Homo sapiens: one gene and its partner. The protein of the gene in region 2 interacts with the protein of the main gene of each other region in a pairwise test. Each region holds a gene or a part of one and is shown on either strand. Other genes may lie near its edges.

What was found. Proteins that work in one complex are often made in the same cells at the same time.
Region 1: the proteins of NFE2L2 (region 2) and KPNA4 interact in binary tests that used the Homo sapiens proteins (3 or more experiments, as listed by UniProt).

The regions. Positions count from the first base shown.
Region 1 is NC_000003.12:160,555,572-160,562,571, forward strand, and holds part of KPNA4 (importin subunit alpha-3), read right to left. Parts: intron 1-7,000. UniProt on the Homo sapiens protein: Functions in nuclear protein import as an adapter protein for nuclear receptor KPNB1. Binds specifically and directly to substrates containing either a simple or bipartite NLS motif.
Region 2 is NC_000002.12:177,233,596-177,242,851, forward strand, and holds part of NFE2L2 (nuclear factor erythroid 2-related factor 2), read right to left. Parts: intron 677-9,256; coding exon 410-676; intron 1-409.

The DNA.
Region 1 (7,000 bases), on a different chromosome or scaffold from region 2:
AATATATTGTAAGAAAAGTCATGTGAATGTGGGATCTCTTTCTCTCTAAATATTAATATCTTGTTGTATCACATATTCACCTAGTTTCTGATCACAGTTGACTGCAGGTAACTAAAACTGCAGATAAGGGTGAACTATTATACTTCATTTTATAGCGGAACAATACTCCATTGTATGCATATACCATACTTTGTGCATTCATCAGTTAATGGGTATTTGGGTTGTTTCCTTCTTTTATTTTATTTATTTAAATTATTTATATTTATTTATTATTTTTGAGAAGGAGTTTTGCTTTTGTTGCCCAGGCTGGAGTGTAATGGCCCGATCTCAGCTCACTGCAACCTCCACCTCCTGGGTTCAAGTGATTCTCCTGCCTCAGCCTCCCAGGTAGCTGGGATCACAGGCATGCGCCACCATGCCTGGCTAATTTTGTATTTTTAGTAGAGACGGGGTTTCTCCATGTTGGTAGTGCTGGTTTCCCAACTCCCAACCTCAGGTGATCCGGCCCGCCTTGGCCTCCCAAAGTGCTTGGGATTACAGGCGTGAGCCACTGCGCCCAGCCAAGTTGTTTCCCTCTTTTGGCTGTTATGGATAATGCTGCTATGAACACTCATTTACAAGTTTTTGTGCAGACATTATGTTTGCAATTCTCCTGGATTTATATCTAATTAGTAGAACTGCTGGGTCACATGTTAACTGTTTAACTTTTTGAGGAACTGCCAAACTGCATTCCAAAGCAGCCGTACCATTTTACATTCCCATCAGGCATGTATGAGGGTTCCACTTTCTCCACATCCTCACCAACACCTGTTATTTTCTTTTTATATACTGCCATCCTAGTGGGTGTAAAGTGGTATCTCATCATGCTTTAGAGCTGTGTTTCCCTAATGACTAATGAGGCGGATCCTATTTTTTATTTGTTTATTGGTCTTAATTAAACTTTTCATCATTGAGTATCCCTTATGTGAAATGCTTGGGAACACAAGTGTTTCAGATTTTGGATTTTTTTGGATTTTAGAATGTTTGCATAATACTTAGAGACTGAGCATCCCTAATCCAAAATCTGGTATGCTCCAATGAGTGTTTCCTTTAAGCATCACGTAGGTGCTTAAAGTTTCAGATTTTGGAGCATTGTGGATTTCAGATTTTTGGATTTGGACGCTCAACCTGTACTGTCATTGTTTTAAAGCTGGAGAATAAAAAGGGAATTGGGAAAAATTATTCACAACATTAAGAGAAAAAACGTGAACAAATTTAAGGTGTCTGAAACAGCTGATCAACAATGAACCCAATTCTATAGATATATCTGTAGTAAAATGAACATCTCCACATAATATTCAAAAGTGAAATAAGGAACCAAACCTACCCTAAATAGGTAGGACTATAGGTGTGTGCCACCACACCCAGCTAAATTTTTTATTTTTTGTAGAGATGAGGTCTCACTATACTGCCTAGGATGGTCTCAAACTCCCGGCCTCAAGGAACCAAATCCTCTGCACTATTTTAAAAAGAGCTGGAGAATATTTGGGTTTCACACCTACTAAAGAACAAGGAGTGATGTTAACAATTATTTGAAAACCTTAAGGTATTATCTTGCTTGTTTTTCTGGACCAGTAACAGCTTAAAGTGGCTAAAAAGCCAGTGTGAAGAGGAAGAACAGGTGGCAAACAGGACAGGGCCATTTAATACAACCAAGCAGAGACCACTTAACATAGGTCTTTCGGGATAAAACTACTCAACTAAATAAATTTATGTAACACTTACCTCAAGGGTCCAGAAAGACATACTTTAAAAAACATAAAGAGTAGATATGTGCAAACTAAAGTTTTTATTAAAGAACAGGACACTGAGATAGACTATGATTTACCTTCTAATATTAGACAATATGTCCATCACTGAACTAGTAAAAAACATACTATCTTAGGATTCCGACTTTTGTTAGTAAAAAAATTCATGAAATTCCATGTTTGTCAAAATACATCATTAGTTAAAATCTAATTTACATTAAGTTTAAAGTAAATAAAAATTTAGGGAAAAAATGACAGGTGACTAAATTTTGTCCGAATAGTAAATAAACAGTAATAGAAAATAAGTCAGCATTTAAAAATTTCTATCTATCTGAGATGAGACCTCATTCTTGTCACCCAGGCTGGAGTGCAGTGGCATGGTCATAGTTCATTGCAGCCTCCACTTTCTGGGCTCAAGCGATCCTCCTGCCTCAGCCTCCTAAATAGGTATGACTACAGGTGTGTGCCACCACATCCAGCTAAATTTTTTATTTTTATTTTTTTGTAGAGACAAGGTCTCACCATATTGCCTAGGATGGTCTCAAACTCCCAGTATCAAGCAATCCTCCTGCCTCAGCCTCTCAAAGCAATAGGATTACAGGCATGAGCCACTGTGCCTGGGAAAGTTTAGCATCTTTAATAATCAACTTAATCTTGTATTACCAACAAATATCTATGACCTTAAATCATTTTCATTCTGGGTACTAAATAGTGTGAATTATAGTTGTTTTCTGATTATATTTACAATGTTTTGAGAAAACAGTGACAAAATCTACATAAAGCATTTAGTAACCCACTTAAAACATAGGATTAAAGAAATGAAGTCATAAACTAGTATGTATGTGACAATTTGGCTGAAGTATGTGGGAGAAAGTAGGTTTTCAGGTGACTGTTAAATAAGGGGAATAAGAAGCCTTCCCAAATTTGTATGATGTGGTTTGGATTATGGCACACAGAGGTACAAGAGGAATTTTGTAAGCAAAATGTTATTCTGATATGGAACATAGGGGTTTACTTGGATGCAATGTATGACTATGTAAGTTGGCAGAAATAGTAAGAGGTTCCATTTACTCTGCATGTACTTTATGCTAGGCATTGTTAAACATTTCAAAGGCTTAGACATAATTAAGTTAGCCTCCATAATTACTAAGTGGAGAAACCAGAGTTCAAACCCAGACCTAAGTGACTCTACAGTCCATGTCTTTTAACCCCTATACTATAAGGTCCTTTAAGAGCCTGTATTAATTAAAAGTGACACTCATGTGCAAAAGAAGCAATGGTAAACTAAAAGAGTGGCACTCAAAGCATGGTCCACGGGCCCCTATGTGGGTCCTGAGACCTTTACAGAGAGTACACAGGGTCAAAACTATTTTCCTAATGATAATACTAATACTTTTTTTAAAAAAAAAATTGTATTAACACTTGAATTGATGCCATAGGGGTAAGACTGCTGGTGCTTTAGAATGAATTAAGGTAATGACATCAAGATGCAATAGTTGTCACTGATTTCACATCTAAAATTTGTTTAAAAGTCAGCTCACTTAAGAATTCCTTGAGGAAACAGTAAAAAATGATTACTTTTATTAAATATTGGCCTTTTCTAATTGTGTGAAAAAAATGAAGATTACATATAAGCCACTTCTGCTGCATACCAACTTCTACTTAAGGACGACTGTCTCAAGGAAAAAGTACTTGTGCAACTGAGTTGTGAACTGACCTAGCCACTTTTTTCATGGAACACTATTTTTACTTGAAAAAACGACTGACAGACAAATTATGGTTATTCAGACTTAATGGTTGGAAGATGTTTTCACAAAAATGAGCAAAGTGAGTCTATGGCTTCAACGATAACCATTTATAGCATTTATTGCTAATGATAAAATTTCAGCTTCCTCTGAACTTGTCCCAGAGGCATGGTAAAAAAAGAAAAAAAAATTGAGCTTCCCAGAGAAAGTTAGAATTTTAGAAAACTTGTATCCACTTCTGTGAACCTGACAGATTCTCAATACTTAAGATTTTTCTGAATTGTGTGGTTAACAATCATGAATTTTTTATTGAATAAAATATGTTAGCATTTGGAAGACGTGCATAACTCAGTGACATAATGTTTTCCAAATAATCCAATGCATGGTATTACAAAAAGCATCAGTAAAAGATGGGTAAATGTTACATCTGAAGTGCAAGACAGACCAATAGATTTTAATGTAACAGTGTAAGAAAAGTTCACTCATGTGGCTTCAGATTCTACATTGCAACTATCTTTAAGAAACTACCTCTTGCAGAATTACGGTGTAGTATCACTTAATCTCCATAATTATCCTGAAAAGCCTATGAAAACATAACATACTTTCCTTTTTCAACTGTCTGTCTGTGTGAAGGTGGACATTCTTCACACACTTCGACCAAAACAGTGTATCACAAAAGACTGAATGCAGAAACAGATGAGAATTCAGCTGTCTTAAGCCAAACATTAAGACCCGAAAAAAAGGTTCAACATGGCCATTCTTCTCATTATGTATTTTTGGTTTTGAAAAATGTCCTTATTTTATAGATATCAATATACAGTTCTCATATTAACCACAGAAAAAGGAAGAACTCCAACCCTGTCTTTTACCAAACCTAAATGAAAAGCACAGAAAACAAACTGTGTTTTCTAGTGTTTGAAAGTCTACAAGTGACCCACAATTTCCAAAAACCCTCTGAGAAAAAAAGAAAACATTTACTGAATACCTATTATACCCCGTGGACTATGCTCAGTGCTTTCACATAGAACCTTTTCATCAAATTTGAGACTGGCATTAAGGCTGAAAGAAGTCAAATGGAGGAAATATGGTAAAGTACAAAAAGAACAGACTCTGACACACCTGAATTAAAATCATTCCCTTAAATGTTATCTTATTAAATCAAAAGCACAAGAGTTTCTTCTTTAAAATTTCTTCTTTAAAATAAATTCAATATGTATAAGATTGAGAGAAATGTGAATACAGTTAAAAGCATATACAGTAGGTGCTCAGAAAGTTCCCTTCAGTCATATTCCTCTTTTCTGTTCCAAAACTAAATCAGCGAGTAAGTACCAAAATCAGAGATCAAGGTTAAATCTGATGACATGCTCTTGTTTCATTCATCATTATAGGCCTCAAATAGATGAATGCTACTCCAGAAAACATTTAAAAATATTTTAAGGACCCACAACCACTATCAGGTATTAGAAATCAATGTTTAAAAACTACCTTTGCATTTTTTTTTCTAAAGTAGCTTCATTCTTTGAAATCTAAATCACTCCTACAATTCTTCCCAATCTTGTACATTCATTTGACATACTTAGTGACTACGAAAAATAAGGGCATCTTGGTATCTCCAGGAAAACTATCAATGAAGCAATTCTCAAACTGGCTACCTTGTAAACCAGGAAAGTTGGCAAGAAGTACAGAAACAGTCATTTAATTCCTAACTATATTTCTATCAGATATTTCATATTGTCACATGCTTGGACTATTATGTGAAAAATTAGACAGTAGTTATTTTAAGTATAGTAAATATGTTCCAAGATTTGTGGTGAGAGAGATCAGTCTCTAAAAGTTAACAAGACTTAATACCTTAACAATGCTTTTCACTCTGTACACTTTAACAAATCACTGAGGCTCTTTCAAAACAACAAAACAGCTGATCAATTTATTAAACTCTTGCCAACCAAGCACCTTTTTTTAAAGTTCAAGCTGACTTCATATTTTATGTTTGTGTGGATAATCACAAGTTTCTAATTATGTAGCATTTTAATATTCTTTTATATTTAGGGTAAGTTGTTTTCTTAAAGTTGTGTTTTTAAAAGATCTAGTTATATTTTATGCTCTATTTGAACCTAGACACTCAGAACTTTCATAAAAAGTATGCAGGTTTATTAGGAAATCTACAAGAAAATTCCCCTCTACTTTAAAAAACATAAATTATATGAGCTTAATTTACTTTATCCTGACAAGTTTTTTATTTCAAGTTTGGTCACTACCCATTTCCTGTGTTGCACTGTATATACCCTCTTTTCTATGGTTACTATTCTCAAACTAAGACTGGGGATCTTCTACAACACTGTAAGAAGCAGCCACGCCATGGTGAATATCATCTGATAGTTCCTGATAATTATTTTAAATGGATACTGAACATATGCCTTCTTTGGTGCGTTTGTGTTTCAAGAAACTTAACATGACCACATTTTAGAGGAGTCAGAATGGTAGAGAGAGGTAGGAACAAATATCAGATTGAAATCTATGAATAACTTTCAACTCTAACACTCAGAAATTACAACTTTAAAAGGATCACTAATTTGGTGTGCCTAAACTGCCCTTCAATGAGCAGCTACATGTCTCTGTATTAAAACCTTTCCCTATTACTTGTTCAATGTAACAAGTTATACAAGCAGAGAGAAAAAACAGCCACTGAAAATAAGGGAGTAAGAGAATCAATTATACTGAATCTTGTTAAATCCCTTCCCTCCCCCAAAAAGAAAAGCTGAAGGTGATAAAACGCTCAGAGAATTGCCAGGCATCTTCCTAACATTACCTATTAATCTTCACAACACTCATGAAGCAGATGTCAAGTACCTCTAGTTTTACAGATGAAAGAACCATAAGACTAAGCGATTTTCCCCAAGGTCATACACAAAGTTAGAGATCAAATTAAACTAAACTCTAGGACTCTGTATTCTTCATCATTTCTAATCAAATAAACTGTTAGATCATAATATGCTACAATTACCTCTCCCTAAATGCTATACTCTGTACATGGGCTGTTCCAATAAGGTAGCCACTAACCACATGTGGCTATTAAGCACTTGAAATGCAGCTAGTCCAAGTGGAGGTATGCCATAACCGTAAAATACAAACTGGATTTTGAACGTATGAAAGGAATAATATGAAACGTCTCAATTATTTTACACAAATTAGATGTTGCATGGTATTTTGGATATACTGGATTAAGTTAAATTCACTGGTCCATACTTCTTTCTGAAGACTTCCCATGAAATAGATGTCATCATAAGATCCAAATCAAAAAGCAATTATTTTCTCAGAATTTGCTGTATTCTACAGACATTATGTAACACAATGTAGTAACCATATCTAAAGGGTGATTAAGTGTTTAGAGAGATACAGCATATATGTAAGTAGGCTGATAAGTGCTTAGAGAGATAGACCAGATATGTAAGTAACAAATACACAAAG
Region 2 (9,256 bases):
GGATAATGGTAACTAATTAATATAGTTGTGTTAATTAAATCAGTCAGTATATGTTCTTAAAACAGTGCTTGCCACACACAGTAACGCCAGTAATCCCTGCTACTTGGTTCTCCTGCTACTACTTCTGTTGCTGCTACTTGATCCTTACAGGATGTTTCTATACTTTACAAAACTCTTTGGTGTAACTTAAGTCTTCCCAATCCTCACAATAACACTGTTAAGATCAATAGGTTGGGTACTGAACTCAGGTTAGGTACTGAACTCATCAGGAGGCTGAGGTTGGAAAGTAGATTTGACAAGGTTAAGTAAAAGAAAGGCAAAGCTGGAACTCAAATCCAGATATTTTAATTCCTTGCTCAGTGTTTCCTTAAACCTGCCATAACTTTCCCAAGAACTGAGTACTCTGTACCTGGGAGTAGTTGGCAGATCCACTGGTTTCTGACTGGATGTGCTGGGCTGGCTGAATTGGGAGAAATTCACCTGTCTCTTCATCTAGTTGTAACTGAGCGAAAAAGGCTTTCTCTTGCTCCTTTTGGAGTTGTTCTTGTCTTTCCTTTTCAAGTTTTTTCTGTTTTTCCAGCTCATACTCTTTCCGTCGCTGACTGAAGTCAAATACTTCTCGACTTACTCCAAGATCTATATCTTGCCTCCAAAGTATGTCAATCAAATCCATGTCCTATGTTTAAGACAAAAAAAGGAAGGAGAGAGCTCATGTTTTTTAAATGACAGATACCACATAAATTAATTCACATTATGCCACTGTTGATGGTGGGAAGTGGGGAGATTACAAATACAATCTAAATGAGAACACAGATCCAATGTTCTAGAAGAGCACAGTTAATTCCATTCAATGAATCTATTCATTAAAGACAACAAACAACCTACAAACACATAGCCATCCATTCTAATCACTTGGATCATTAATGATAGGGTGATGGTAGAGGTCACTAAAGGGCAAAGTCACAAATGGTTTGAATGAGAAGAAATCCCACCCTTGTTTAATGGAATATAGAAATTAGAGCAAGCACTCTAAGCCACTGGCTTATATAAGAGAAGTGGGGTCTGGAAAACATTACTGAATACATGGAGTTTTCTTTAAACTTTGCTCAGCAAATATCCAGTTTATAGAGGGATAACTCTCAAGTTAAAGTGTCAATCTAGCAGTTGTGAAATATCACCATTCTTTCCATCTTTCCTACACTAGATTATCTTCTCCCCATCACTGCTTGCTACTCTTATCTCTGTGGCTTACCTATATGCCTGTAATCCCAGCACTTTGGGAGGCCAAGGTGGGTGGATCACCTGAGGTCTGGAGTTCGAGATCAGCCTGGCCAACATGGTGAAACCACGTCTCTACTAAAAATACAAAAATCAGCCGGGTGTGGTGGTACGTGCCTGTAATCCCAGCTACTCAGGAGGCTGAGGCAGGAGAATCGGCTTGAACCTGGGAGGCAGAGGTTGCAGTCAGCTGAGATCGCACCACTGCACTCCAGCCTGGGCAACAGAGCAAGACTCCATCTCAAAAAAAAATAAAATAAAAGCAGACAGGGACAGGTGCGGTGGCTCACGCCTACAAGCCCAGCACTTTGGGAGGCTGAGGCAGGTGGATTGCTTGAGCCCAGGAGTTCGCGACCAGCCTGGGCAACATGGAGAGACCCTGTTTCTACCAAAACAAAAACAAACAACAACAACAACAACTGGTGTGGTGGCGCACACCTGTGGTCCCAGCTACTCAGGAGGCTGAGGTAGGAGGATCACTTCAGTCCAGGAGGTCATGGCAGCAGTGAGCTATGATCGTGTCACTGCACTCCAGCCCGGGCAACAAAGTGAGACCCTGTCTCATAAATAAATAAATAAATAAATAAAACTATGGCTCCAGGGAAGGATTAAAGGTATTAAGTTTTAAGACATAGGAAGAATCTTACAAAGAGGGAATGGTTTTGATGAGGAGAGGCTGAGCTTGGTGACTCAGGCCTGTAATCCCAGGAGTTTGGGAGGCCAAGGCAGGAGGATTGCTGGAGCACAGGAGTTACTAGCCTGGGCACCATAGTGACACCTGTTTCTACCCAAAATCAAAACAAATTAGTTGCACGTGGTGATACGAGCCTGTAGTCCCAACTATTAGGGAGACTGAAGTGAGAGGATTGCTTGAGCCCAGGAAGTCAAGGCCATGGTGAGCTGTGATTGTACCACTGCACTCCAGCTTGGGTGACAAGACCCTGTTTCACACACACAAAAAGATACATGGGGAGAGAATTTATATGACTAGGCTAGGCATAGGAACCACATCCAGATTTTCCTAACCAAAAATGTGTCAATAGCAGTTTTTCTGATTTGTAATTTTAGTCTTTGGAAAAATCTAAATAGGTAGGAAATCTAAATCTGTTTCCATTCCACAAATCACCTATAGGGGAAATAATTAATTTGAGAATGGAAAAAAATCAAGATGGGGGAACGGGAGTTGGGACTTGAAGGCCAGTGGGTACAGTGTAGACACGTCACACTTTGCATTTCATTCTGCTGACAGCTGGCAACGCCAGACTTAGAGTTCTATTACTTTCAGCTTCCCAAGGACGCAAATAACATGGTGGTTGTTTCAGTGAGGAGTCAGGCTATTTTTATCCAACAGAGGAGCAGGCCACCCAGCCTGGAGGCAGCGCAGCTAGCTAGATGGCACAGGCCACCTGTGTCCATGATTGAAGGTTGGCGTTGGAATCTTAAATGCTATGAAACCCTGCTCATGGGGCTCATTATTCTAGCCTTGAACAATATATATTGTAAAGCACACAAAGTAGGCATAGTTAAAGTAGCACTTGTAGTTAGGTATACCTCACTAGGACATACCTAATTATCTTTAAGCCAGTATCTATTAAGGGCTTCCTATATGCTATGCACTGTTCTAAGTACTTTACATATAGAAACTATTCCTCAAAACAGCCTTATACAGAGAAAACATTCCTGTTATACAGTATAAGAATACTGAGGTTAAGAAAAAAGATACTACCAGAAAGTGGCTGAACAAAGACACATACCCAGGCAGCTTCAGTCGGGTTCATGCTTTATTAGCCATGAGCCTACACTATTATAAAATGGCATGGCATTTGCTGCAAATAACCTATGCATATCCCTTTATATACTTTAACTCATCCCTGGATTACTTACAATACCTAGTAAAGTGTAAATGCTGTGTAAATAGTTGTTATACTGTATTTTATGTGTGTATTGTTATTTTTTCGGGTTTTTTTTCCACTTTTTTCCTTTTGAAATTTTATTATTTATTTACTCATTTTGAGATAGGGTCTCACTCTGTCACCCAGGCTGGAGTGTGGTGATGCAATCATGGCTCACTGCAGCCTTCACCTGGGCTCAAGTGATCCTCCCACCTCAGCCTCCCAAGTAGCTGGGACTACAGGCACATGCCACCAAGCCCAGCTAATTACTTTTTGTAGAGATGGCGTCTTGCCATTTTGCCCAGGCTGGTCTTGAATTCCCGGGCTCCATTGATTTTCCTGCCTCAGCTTCCCAAAGTGCTAGGATTACAGGCATGAACCACTCCACTGTGCTTGGCCTTTTTCCAAATATTTTTGAACCAATCTGCCATTGGTTGCATCATGGAACCAGAGGCTGCATGGGCCGACTGTATATACACTTGGCTTTGGAATCTTGGTAGTATGAAGCGGCCAGTCTGCAGGTCAGATTAAGTCTGTAGGTCACCTAGATCAGTTTCCTGGCCAAGAGCAACAAAATAGCAACCACAGAGCATTCAGTCGACTATACATGGCTATCTTCTCAGGGGGATTCCCACTAAAATAGGTATGAGAATAATTTCTATTTTAAAAAATGATTTGTTTCCATTCTGATGGACATGTTTACCCAAAGGTTATCATGGGAGACAGAAAATTCAAAGGTATAGAGAAACCTACTTTATTTTATTTTTTTTTGAGACGGAGTCTCGCTCTGTCGCCCAGGCTGGAGTGCAGTGGCACAATCTCAGCTCACTGCAACTTCCGCCTCCAGGGTTCAAGCAGTTCTCTCACCTCAGCCTCCTGAATAGCTGGGATTACAGGTGCGTGCCACCATGCCCGGCTAATTTTTCTATTTTTAGTAGAGACAGGATTTCGCCATGTTGGCCAGGCTGGTCTCGAACCCCTGACCTCAAGTGATCTGCCTGCCTCGGCCTCCCAAAGTGCTGGGATTACAGGTGTGAGCCACCACGCCCAGCTGAGAAACCTACTTTAAAATTCTGATTAGCTTGGGCCGCTTCTTCTCAGTAAATCTAGATACATAGCAGGGTATCCTGTCTAGACTTTCTGCAAACTGGAGCTATCTGCCCAAGCAAGGTATTAAGTGTTCAATATGTTCCCATCTTCTAGGTACTAGCACCAAAAATGAAAGGAATGCATGATCCTGCGATCTTAATTGAACTCTGTAAAATAGGCAGTCCATGTTCCCACCCATCTCAAGAAGTGATGTGCAAAGTGTGCAAAGCTCTTTGCAAAGTCAATCAAAGAAACTCAAATACTTGTCCCTGTACGTGGGGAAAAGTGTACTTTGACACATCCCTGCCTCACCCTAGACTTCCTGGGCCTGAGGTTTTTTCTTGTTAAGGAGATCCCAGGATAAAAATCAGTAAAAGGTTGTGACTTTTTCATGCAACTGAAGCAATTTAGGTTGCAAACATCTTCTGCTCATAAATCTGACTTGCAAAGTATCCTTACAACCAACCCTCATGAGCTGGAAGAAAATATTGAATGGAATTTATAATTGTCAGTGTCAATCATGCCAAGAATTGAAATAACTATTTAATTTCCTTTCCCCCCCTTTTCCTTCCCATCAGATGATAATATTTGAGGGGTTTGGATGGCTTTAGCTATACATTGTTTAATTATTCCATCCTACCCAAGCATACAGATGTTAGTGGATCAAATGAGGCACGTGAAAAGTATCTCTCTATAAATGTAAAATATGCAAATGTTTACATGTTGACAGTGATAGGCTCTACTACTTGCTGTATAAGCGAGACCAAAGTCCAGGCCAATGGATAATAATGAGGTTGTGGACCTAACTAGGGGGAGCCTAAAATAATGTTGGGACTACCTAGATGGTCAGAAAGAATGAGCCAATTAACTTCTAAAATCATGGACAGCTTCATTGCTTGGTTCTTCCTCAGGGCAGGTCTGAATTAGACTACTATTAACATGTTGTAATAAAAAAGGATTTTGATCTCAGAGATTCTGAATTATTTACAAATAATAAAGCAAATTAATAAGCAAATTAGAAGTTTTAGTGGATATTGCTCTTGATGGTGGTTTTGTTACTGTTGGTGGGGGTAATGGTGATGGCAGTGGGCACGCCCATATACATTTGCATACACTCTAATATAAATGTTTACAAACATACACACACACACATTCAATTGCCACTCAATTCCTGCTGTGAGTACCCTTCAATGGACAGCTCCAAACCAATTCAATGTTTTTTATTTGAATTTCCCTTGACATGACCAGAAAAAGACATCTTTATGAATCCTTATCAACAAACAGGAAAAATAAGACATGAAGCATTATTTAGACTAGCTCTTGAGCATCCTGTTCACGTTACCTGAAACAATGCTGGACCCTGGGAGACTAAGCAGCTCCTGCGGCCCTAGCTTACTGTCTCCACCAAGAATGCCACCAAATGACATCTAATTGCTCTTCATTAGGCTGGGGGACATTCAGTGCAATCGTAATAGGACCAAAATAGGTTTCAAAGTGTTCTGAAAGGTTTTCCTGTGTATTTTTAAGTTTATATTTATGTGGCCAGGCATGGTGGCTCACGCCTATAATCTTAGCACTTTGGGAGGCCGAGGCGGGCAGATCGCTTGTGCTCAGGAGTTCGAGACCAGCCTGGGCAACATGGTGAAACCCTGTCTCTACTAAAAATACAAAAATTAGCCGGGCGTGGTGGCATGTGCCTGTAGTCCCAGCTACGTGGGGGACTAAGGTGGGAGGACTGCTTGAGCCCAGGAGGTCGAGGCTGCAGTGAGCCAAGATCGTGCCACTGCACTCCAGCCTGGGTAACAAAGTGAGACCTTGTCTCAAAAAAAAGTTTATGTAATGTTTTTTCTTGCTATGAGAGGTCTCAAAACAAAACAAAACAAAACTGCTTCATAAAAGAAAAAAGCTAAATTTGAAGCAACTATTTTGGATTCCCAAAAACAGACATCTTGATCAAATTTAGAATGCAGCAACAATAGGTTTATTGTTATGGCCTTAATGTCATACTCTGTGCTACTCAGATTTTCACATCTGTTTCAGCAGGCAAAATCCTGCAGAGATTTGATACTGTATGAAACATTCAAAGCTTTATGTTAAAAAAAAAAAAAAAAAAACAGCAGAAGTTAACTGAAGACTCACTGTTGGGGACCACAAGCTCACTACTGTATTTTGTGCTAAGCTAATATGCACCAACCATTTCCTGTAAGGAGCCGTGTGACTGGGCACATGATTTATTCCACAAATGACCCAGCTCTCTGCAAGGCTCACACATCATCTAAGAGGAAATAATCGTCTGGGTGGAGCCCATAACAAACAAGAACATGACACTGGACAGGAGGAAAGGGAAGTGCCTAAGGAAGAACTAAAACTGCTCTTCTGCACAGAAATCCAGGGCTTTGAGGAAGTGCAAGTCCCCCATGGAGGAAGGCCACAGTACAAAGTGTTAGATAAGTAGGGTTTGGGTAGAGAGAGGAAAGCAGGTAGATGGGTTGCACAGCACTGCACAGATACTTTCTTACAACGGGTGAGAAAGCTTCCCAAGGGCCATGCGAGCACTGGCCAGGAGCCTTTGCATGGCATATGGAGCAAATGCCGTCTGCCACTTGGTGTCTGAATTTTTTTTGCTCTTGTCCTTTAGTGATTCCTGAGTGTGTTCCAAATTATGTTGCTAGCTTGGCTTAGACAAAAGAAGACAATTTGATAAGAAACACAAATGTTGGACAATTCATGTTAAATCACCATCTGGCCTAACAGAAATATTCATGTTTAAAAAATATATATCATCATTTGCCAACTGGGTAATCTGTTACACATTTTAGGGAAATCTGAAGTTGGACAATTAACTCATACCACTTTAAAACAAACATCTTTGTACCAGGATAAACAAAGAAGAAAGGACTTGAACACAGAATCCATATTAAATATGTCTTTTGCAAGTCAATTTTAGTGCCTTGAATAAACCAGCATCTATCATGCTTAGATGATCCAAAATATTGGAAAAGATAAAGCAAAGATAATACAATCCCTGTCCTAAATTAAAGCTATTCAGTAAACTGAGACAAAGTATTTGAAATGAAAAGTAATCTTTTAGACACTCAAATGTCTAATTAAGGCTTGCACCTCCCATTCCCCCGAGTCTCCCTTCCCTCTCCTACCCTCTATCTTGCCCTGAGAATGACAGGAAGGTGGTGGGAGATTTCCTTCTAAAAATAAATTTCATCAATAAACTGTTAAAAAAAATTAATTATACACACTACTAACTCTCAACAGAAAGCGAAACTGAGCCTTGCTCCAAAGAGAAAACTGATCCTTGATCTTTTTACTTTCATGTAGTATAAAGTTGGAATGTCTTAAGTTATTCCTTCTTAAAATCATGTATTTCCATTTAAAAAAAATCTTATTTTAATGTTATTCCCCTGAGATCCTTCCTTCATCCAAATCTTAGTTACCAGCATTCAGAGTCTAAGTTACACTTGATTATATTTTTCTTTCTTTCATTTCATTCTTCATATTATTCCCAGGTGATTATATTATTTACCTAAAAGCTAAATCTGGTTCAATGTTTTTTTCCATAGACACTGTCTAAGTATTTCTGAAGAAAACCAGGTGGAACATGAATCATATCCTACCATCTGGATGAATATAAACCAAATTAAGAGCTATATGAGGCTGCAAAAATATTTGAGGGCATGCTTGAATTTTGAGGAATTGATAAAATAACAGCCAGGCACGGTGGCTCACACCTGTAATCCCAGCTCTTTGGGAGGCTGAGGTGTGAGAATCACTTGAGCCCAGGAGTTTGAGACCAGCCTGGGCAACACAGGCCTCAACTCTACAAAAAAATTTAAAAATTAGCCAGACATGGTGAGACACTGCTGTAGTCCCAGCTACTTGGGAAACTGATGTGGGAGGATCACTTGAGCCCAGGAGATGAAGGTTGCAGTGAGCCATGATCATGTACTGCCCTCCAGCCCTGTCTTAAAACAAAACAAAAGCAAAAACAAAACAAAAACAACAGAGATCTCCTTCATTTACAAATCTCTGCCTTGCAGTCGTAATCCTTATTAGATAAAGCAAAATGACACCAAGCAGATGTGTTTTTAAAATACATCTTGCTGATGACTAATTACATTTCATAGATATGTATCTGCCTATTTACTTCTCTGGCTTCTCTCACACTGCATTACAAGAATATAGCAATACCAATTGTTTTCTCAGCAAGAATTCTAGGTCATTCTTTCTATTTCCCACATTCCAGTACTTTTGGTTTTATTAGACTGATTTGCTATCTTGATTGTGTTGCTACAGTAAGTGTAAAGTAGGTGATTAAAATACAGAAACACAGAATACTGGAGACAAAAGGGGCCTTACAGCCTATCGAGGCCAAGTGTAAATGTTGCCAGGTTTATTTCTATGTAACTACAGTGCCTTAAAAAAAATAACTGGCCTAGCAACATGTTGTATACATCAGCAGAGACATTTAAGAGGTAGCAACAGTTACCACGAATCCAAGTTTTCCTTTCCCTTATCTTGAATAACTAGAGACTTTTAACAGCATAAAAAAGCCCAAATACACACAAAGACGTATTATTCAACAAGTTAAAACCCTAGTTCACAAATTTACCATTCCCTGAGTTATAGAACCATTTTTCTGCCCTTTTATCTTTCCACTAGAAAGTGGTCCGGTTTCTTCAATCTGGCAGGTTACTATGTGCAGCCATTTTCATGGGCTGCTTCCTGTTCCCAAACAAGTTCCTCAGTCATGACTCAATCTAAGAAATATGATCCAGCCAATTTACTGGAACTCTCACCCATTATGCTTGTCTGTAAACTGCAGAGCATGATGCAAAGATAAAGCAAAACTGGAAAGTGAAGAAAGCAAGAATTTGGATTATTTTCTCAAGAGGCACATGCAGAGTTCGGTCAAAAAGATGTCAGAAAAAAAGTTAATTTCCAAAACAGCAGGTGATCCTACCTGCTACAAAAAGCACATGGTA